Homo sapiens: one gene and its partner. The protein of the gene in region 2 purifies or fractionates together with the protein of the main gene of each other region. This does not show direct contact. Each region holds a gene or a part of one and is shown on either strand. Other genes may lie near its edges.

Evidence for each region.
Region 1: the proteins of PODXL2 (region 2) and LMAN2 purify together in Homo sapiens (affinity purification with mass spectrometry; one large-scale study listed by BioGRID and IntAct). This does not show direct contact.

What each region holds. Positions count from the first base shown.
Region 1 is NC_000005.10:177,338,169-177,341,978, forward strand, and holds part of LMAN2 (vesicular integral-membrane protein VIP36 precursor), read right to left. Parts: intron 438-3,810; coding exon 320-437; intron 1-319. UniProt on the Homo sapiens protein: Plays a role as an intracellular lectin in the early secretory pathway. Interacts with N-acetyl-D-galactosamine and high-mannose type glycans and may also bind to O-linked glycans.
Region 2 is NC_000003.12:127,660,167-127,663,976, forward strand, and holds part of PODXL2 (podocalyxin-like protein 2 precursor), read left to right. Parts: intron 1-211; coding exon 212-993; intron 994-2,070; coding exon 2,071-2,145; intron 2,146-3,810. UniProt on the Homo sapiens protein: Acts as a ligand for vascular selectins. Mediates rapid rolling of leukocytes over vascular surfaces through high affinity divalent cation-dependent interactions with E-, P- and L-selectins.

The DNA of each region.
Region 1 (3,810 bases), on a different chromosome or scaffold from region 2:
CATGCAGTCACAGCCACACAGTCTTCATGTTTTGGCTTTTTTACAACAATAACTGTTTAAAATGGTAAAACCAGGCCAATGAGGGTGTAGGGTTGAGCTGCAGGACCCAGCTGCTCCTCTCCCCTCAGTGACCTTCCTTCCAGAGCCAGGCTCCTTCCGGAGGCGCAGGACTTTATCCACGGGAGGCAGCACTTTCCTAACAGGAGAGGAGACGCTGGTCCCCACGAGCCACAGGCAGCCCCACCCCACCTCCCTAGGGGGCCAGCAGCCATGCCCGTGCCCACCCCCACAGGGCCCAGCTGAGCGAACACCAGCCCACCTGGCACGAGGCGGTCCCGGGTGTACCACAAGGCGATGCCGTCTCCATGGAGGTTCTTCTTCCCTGTGCCGTGGACTTTGAAGTGGACGTGCATTTCCCAGTCTTTGAGGAAGCACGGCTGGAGGGAGAGCAGAATGGGCTGCTCAGAGCTCCCCAGGGCCTTCCAGCAAGCTGGAGGCAACCCCAGCACGGCCCCTGCCCCACAGACCTCTCTTCTCTCCCCAGCTAAGACTGGGCACTCCTTGGCACAGGGCCACAAGTGCCACTGACCACAGACCCCTAAATGTTCTGGCCGTGAAGGGAAGAGACTGTTGGGCACCAGGTGAGGTGGGGGAGGCCAGTGTTCCAAGGCTGCCTGAGGCCCAGACCCCGCCAGCAGACCTCAGGCTGCTCCTGAGTAGGTTTAGGTGGCTGCCACACTGTTCACCCTCATTACCAGCCAAACCCACCAGCCATTTCCTCTCCATCCACTGCTCTTGCCCTGGAACCTTCTGCAGACGTTACAACTCCTATTTGAGCAAAGTATTTTACAGGAAAACAAATTCAGAGGTGTAACAACTTGTCCAGAGCAGCTCAGTGGACTGTCTGGACTCACGCGCAGGGCTTTCTGACTCCGAGAGCTCTGCTCAGCGGACTGTCTGGATTCACATGCAGGGTTTTCTGACTCCGAGAGCTCTGCTCTGCCTTCAGTACTTCCCGCGGCCTGCAGGCCTTTCACATAAATTGCACCAGCCCCTTTCTGGTCACCCACATCCACTGCCACATCCACCCTGCTAACCAACCTTCCCAAGTGAGGAAAATCAGGCCGGGTCAGTGCTGCTGGCCTCAAGCCCAGGTCTGGCTGACTCCAAAACCCAGCCCTTCACCAGTTCACCTCCCCAGCCCAGCCTAAGTGTGGTACCAGCGCTGGGGATGAGAGCTGGTCAGGGTCGTGCTCTGGGACTCAAGGGCACCACCATGTGAGCTGGGGCAGGGATGGGCACCGCCTACGCCAAGGGAGAAAGCCTTGCCTTAGGCATCAGGAAGTCGCTTGTGAAAACTAAGGTGTCAACACACACGGTGACAAGAATCCACTTTCAGGAAGTCTGCAGATGGGTATGTAAGCAAGTGATTAAACAAAGACCCATCACAAAGGCAAACCCAAACAGGATGTTGACCTGTCAGACTGGCAACTGTGAAAAAGACCATTAACGTCCAATGCAGATGAGCATGAAGAGAAATGAATACAGGAGTAAAGGAACATGAACCAGTATTAATGATGGGTAATTCTGGGAGGGGGATTATGGCGACTGTTTACCATGTTTGAATAATGTATAATAAACATATTACTTCTGTGATCACAGAAAAATAAAAAACACTGTACCCCAATTTGAGCAATATGCTTCATGCATTCATTGATGCCACAGACTCACTGCTCCCACTCTGGGCACCAGGAACCCAGATAACAAAACCTAGGCCGAGTCCCCGAGAGCACAAAAGAATGGAAGATATAGAATTGTGGGTAAGAGACAGAGGAAACAGTGAGAGAGGCTAAGACTCATATAATTGGGATTCCCGAGTAAGATGTGAGAAATGAAGGCAAAGGAATATTTAAAGACGTCTAAGCACTTACTAAAACTGATTCAAAGACACGCCACAAACTTGAAAAGTCCTACAAACCAAAGGAGATGACTAAAAAGAAAACCATATTTAGGCACAAAAAAAGAAGGGAGGGATAGAGGAAACAGCAACAACAACAAAAAAGTTTTTTTTAACATGAAACTATTTTTTTCTAATTTTTTTCCCCGTGGTACAGCCCCAGGCAATCCTGAGAACGTGTGCCACAAAAGCATTTTTTCTTTCTTTTCAATTTCAACTTTTATTTTAGATACAGGGGCTACATGTGCAGGTTACATGGGTATACTGCACCCAGGCAGGGAGAACAGTACCCAATAGGTAGTTTTTCAACCCACGTCCTCCCCCATCTAGTCTGGAGTGTCTATTGTTCTCCTTAAAAACAGAGAATCTTGGCCGGGTGCAGTGGCTCACGCCTGTAATCTCAGCACTTTGGGAGGCTGAGGCAGGTGGATCACTTGAGGTTGAGGCCAGCCTGGCCAACATGGTGAAACCCCGTCTCTACTAAAAATACAAAAATTAGCCAGGCGTGGTGGTACATGCCTGTAATTCCAGCTACTTGGGAGGCTGAGGCGGGAGAACTGCTTGAATCTGGGAGGTGGAGGTTGCAGTGAGCCGAGATTGTGCCACTGCATTCCAGCCTGGGCAACAGAGTGAGACTCTTTCTCAAAAAAAATCAGACTCACTCTGTCGCCCAGGCTGGAGTGCAGTGGCACAATCTCTGCTCACTGCGAGCTCTGCCTCCCGGGTTCACGCCATTCTCCTGCCTCAGCCTCCCCAGTAGTTGGGACTACAGGCGCCCGCCACCACACCCGGCTAATTTTTTTGTATTTTTAGTAGAGACAGGGTTTCACCGTGTTAGCCAGGATGGTCACGATCTCCTGACCTTGTGATCCGCCCACCTCAGCCTCCCAAAGTGCTGAGATTACAGATGTGAGCCACCACGCCCAGCCTTTTTTTTTCTTTTTTTTTTTTTTTTTGTGAGACAGAGTTTCGCTCTTGTTGCCCAGGCTGGAGTGCAATGGCGTGATCTTGGCTCACTGCAACCTCTGCCTCCTGGGTTCAAGCGATTCTCCTGCCTCAGCCTCCTGAGGAGCTGGGATTACAGGCATGCGCCACTACGCCTGGCTAATTTTGTATTTTTAGTAGAGACGGGGTTTCTCCATGTTGGTCAGGCTGGTCTTGAACTCCCGACCTAAGGTGATCCGCCCGTCTCGGCCTCCCAAAGTGCTGGGATTACAGGCGTGAGCCACCGCGCCCGGCCATAAAAAAAATAATAATCTTAAAGAAAAAGGAACCAGAGGGAAAAAAGGCAATGACTCTCACAGGAGCAATAATCAGCCTGACACCCGGCTTCACGGCGGGAACAGCGGGAGCAAGAAGGCAGATGACTGATATGTTTGGAGATACAGGAAGGTAACAGCCAGCATGGGATTCTATACTCAGCAAATGTATCCTTCAAGAATGAAGGTAAAATAAAGATATTTTGAGACAAACAAACAAAAACCAAAAGAATTCATTAGCAGACTCACACTTTCATTCTTCAGGGAGAAAGAAAATGATCCCCATCCAGATGTAAAGTCAGATTCCAGAAGGAACGAAGAACAACAAATACAGTGACTATAAGGGTGAAAATCTAAATATCTGACTGCACAAAACAATGGGTTGTGTGATTTAAAACAGAAATAATTAAAACAAATGACAACAATAAATGGAGTTAAAGTGTGTTAGGATCCTTGCACTGTCCAGGAAGAAGGTAAAGTACACATTATCATTAGTCTTTGGTACAACATGAATGCCTGCTTTAAATTCTAGGGTGACCACTTAAAACTGAGAAAAGAGCATATAACTTTCAAGCTAATAGAAGAGGAAAAATA
Region 2 (3,810 bases):
AAATTTGTATTATTTTATCATCATAAAGGAAACAGTGACTAGCCTTGTCCCTGTGTCCTCCCACAGTCTGCTCCCCTGGCCTCTCCATCATGACCTGATGACCCCTGCCCTGTCAGTGTATTGTGGTTCTTTTATGCCATCTGCCCAGTAAATACTGAGTAAAGCAATGAATGATGAAACAAGTGAATGAACTTTTCATCTCTGTCCTTAGATTATGTTTTTCCTGACTTAACTGAGAAGGCAGGTTCCATTGAAGACACCAGCCAGGCTCAAGAGCTGCCAAACCTCCCCTCTCCCTTGCCCAAGATGAATCTGGTTGAGCCTCCCTGGCATATGCCTCCCAGAGAGGAGGAAGAAGAGGAAGAGGAAGAGGAGGAGAGGGAGAAGGAAGAGGTAGAGAAACAAGAGGAGGAGGAAGAGGAGGAGCTGCTCCCTGTGAATGGATCCCAAGAAGAAGCCAAGCCTCAGGTCCGTGACTTTTCTCTCACCAGCAGCAGCCAGACCCCAGGGGCCACCAAAAGCAGGCATGAAGACTCCGGGGACCAGGCCTCATCAGGTGTGGAGGTGGAGAGCAGCATGGGGCCCAGCTTGCTGCTGCCTTCAGTCACCCCAACTACAGTGACTCCGGGGGACCAGGACTCCACCAGCCAAGAGGCAGAGGCCACAGTGCTGCCAGCTGCAGGGCTTGGGGTAGAGTTCGAGGCTCCTCAGGAAGCAAGCGAGGAAGCCACTGCAGGAGCAGCTGGTTTGTCTGGCCAGCACGAGGAGGTGCCGGCCTTGCCTTCATTCCCTCAAACCACAGCTCCCAGTGGGGCCGAGCACCCAGATGAAGATCCCCTTGGCTCTAGAACCTCAGCCTCTTCCCCACTGGCCCCTGGAGACATGGAACTGACACCTTCCTCTGCTACCTTGGGACAAGAAGATCTCAACCAGCAGCTCCTAGAAGGGCAGGCAGCTGAAGCTCAATCCAGGATACCCTGGGATTCTACGCAGGTAAAGTGAGGGGCATGCGGGCCACCACCCTGTACCTTCTTCACAGAGCCTGGCCATCCCCAGGGCTAGTGTGGCATGGGGGCAGGATCTGCCAGGTTGAGGAGGGAGGCCCTTTCCACAGCACGTAGAACCCCATGGAACTTGTGGGGATGCAAACCTCAGGGCCAACAATGGGTGTTCTCCCCACACTTCTGTGCAAAGGCCTTTGGAGAAACTTGGTGGCCTGGCCTGGGTTTCATTTGTTCATGTGTTACCATTGCCACCCTTAGACATCTTTTGTTTTTTTTTTTTCCCGAGATGGAGTCTCACTCTGTCGCCCAGGCTGGAGTGAAGTGGGCATGATCTCGGTTCACTGCAACCTCCACCGCCCAGGTTCAAGCAATTCTCATACCTCAGCCCCCTGAGTAGCTGGGATTACAGGCATGTGCCACCATGCCTGGCTAATTTTTGTATTTTTAGTGGAGACAGGGTTTCACCATGTTGGCCAGGCTGGTCGGGAACTCCTGACTTCAAGTGATCCACCCGCTATGGCCTCCTGAAGTGCTGGGATTACAGGCATTAGCTACCGCACCCAGCCCACACTTAGACTTCTGCACTGATTCTACCAGCAGCTAGAGCTAGTGGCTGACCTGTGCTTTCCCCATCCCATCTCACCACCCTCCTCCTCCCCACCGACACCCATGTGCATAGCAGGCACAAGTCAGTGTTCACACCCACTGACACCGCAAGGAAAAGAAAGGAGCCCCAGAATATTAACAATAAACTTGCCCTTGAAAGCCAGCATGTGGGGCAAGCTCTCTGCAGCCTGGCCCCTTTGATATAGTCCCCTACTTCCTGGGAATAATGCCTGGCCTCCTCCTCTCACTCAATACATTCCCTGCTTGGTCCCCAAAGACATTCGAGTTTGTACTCCTTGGCATGGTGCCTCACAGAGGCTGTCAGCAGCCCCCTCGCTGTAATACGCCTCCACTGGCCTCCACCTTCCAGCTTCCCAAAAGGCCTCCGACCGGGGCTCTCTCCCCTGTCCCTTTCCTATGCCTTCGTAACTGTCGCCCTTCTTTCTGTCTCCTCGCACAGGTGATCTGCAAGGACTGGAGCAATCTGGCTGGGAAAAACTACATCATTCTGAACATGACAGAGAACATAGACTGTGTGAGTGCCCAGCCAGGCTCCGAACCGCAGGGAAAGGCTGCAGGCAGTGGACAGGGTGGGGCAGAGGGCAGGCTGGGGGGACAAGCAGTGCGTGGGAGAAGGCTTAGTCCTTCAGTTGGTGGCCCAGGGATATACCAGCAGCCATCAACATTACACACAGAGAGCTTTCGTATTTTAAAATGTCCAAAGGCTCTTTGGTTCTTGCTTCCCTCTCTTTTTAATTTAAATGAATACTTTGTTCATGTGTGCACCATCTTACCTCTCCCGTGATATTGAAACCTTTCTGTCTTTTTTAGAGTTGTTTTCTTCCTGTATAGGTTGCTTTTCTCCGTTTTGGGTCTCAGCCTTTTCATATATATACATGCTCTCCACACATGTCTGGTGGAGTTTGTTCATAGCTCTCTCTATCGAAAAAGTGGCTGGAAGCTTTGAGCATAGTGCTAGGGTTGTCAGCTATGGCTTCTCATGAGAGTGGTCTGGCTGGGCCGTATCACTTAGAAATTTGCAATGGCAGCATTGTTAGGTCCTTCCTCCTGAGGTGATTAGAGTCTTTGAAAAGGGAACTTCTGTTCTGTTCGAAGTATAACAAGTTGGTTGTCAGTGTTCTGGGAGCTGGGGTGGAGAGAGAGGGCTGGGTGTTTCAGTATTATAAATATGTATCCATAAATATCAATATTCATGTACTGTCTCTTCCTGTTTGCAGAGTGACCTTCTCCCTCCCCAAAACACACACTTGTGTCTGATGCTCTCTAGGTCAGAGACCCTCTGTTTTATCTTTTTTAAAGAATAAACTTCCAGTCTTCTGCCAGGGAGAAGGGACATTTCTTGGCTGTGCAGCACTGCGGGAAGAACTAGGGACCCAGCCGTTTCTTAAGCAAACTTTCGACCAGCTCATATTTTTAGTAGCATTTTCATCCCCTCTTCCAAAGGTAACCAGGGCCCCTATTCCGGGGCATCTGGGGAGTGTCAATCAGTATGCATCTGATTGCTTCTCAGCTTTCCTCATTTTGGCTTAGGGTTTGGCTCTTTAGAGTTTGCTAAATTAGGAAATTCTAACTCACCATCTGCTTCCAGTGTCTAGATTTTGTTGCTCTTGTCTCCTCTTCTGTTTTGCTTTGTCTCTGGTTTTAGGCCTTAAATTCTTTACTCTTGTTAGTGGGCCTGGGCAAGACTGAAGGGACATGCATGCGTTGAATCCAAAAGTCCCCAGCAAGGTTGGTTTCCCCCACCATCACTATACTGATGGATCTTCACCTAAGTGATGTGTGTTTTCATCCATTGCAGTTATTATTTTTACTGATGCTCAATACCTCATCTTTGGCCAGGGAAAGCCTCTTTGAGTTGGCCTCTGAGTCCTTTTGACCAATCTATTAAGTGTCTGATTGCTTCCTTGCTTTCTGGCATAATAAGACATTCCAGGCTCACCTTCCTCCCCCAGACATGGAGCCCTCATTCCCTTCATTGGGAAATGGTACATGAAGACCACAGATGGGTACTTGGGACCCTTGAACTTTTGGTGTGCATACTTGAACAATACAGCCTAAAGTTCGTATCTTTTTGCCAATCAATACATAGATATTAAGATGCTTTTATTCTGTTTTCCCTGTTTTTGTCTTCTGTGTTATTCTAATATGTGACCTCCACTCAATTAGTCATCATTATTTT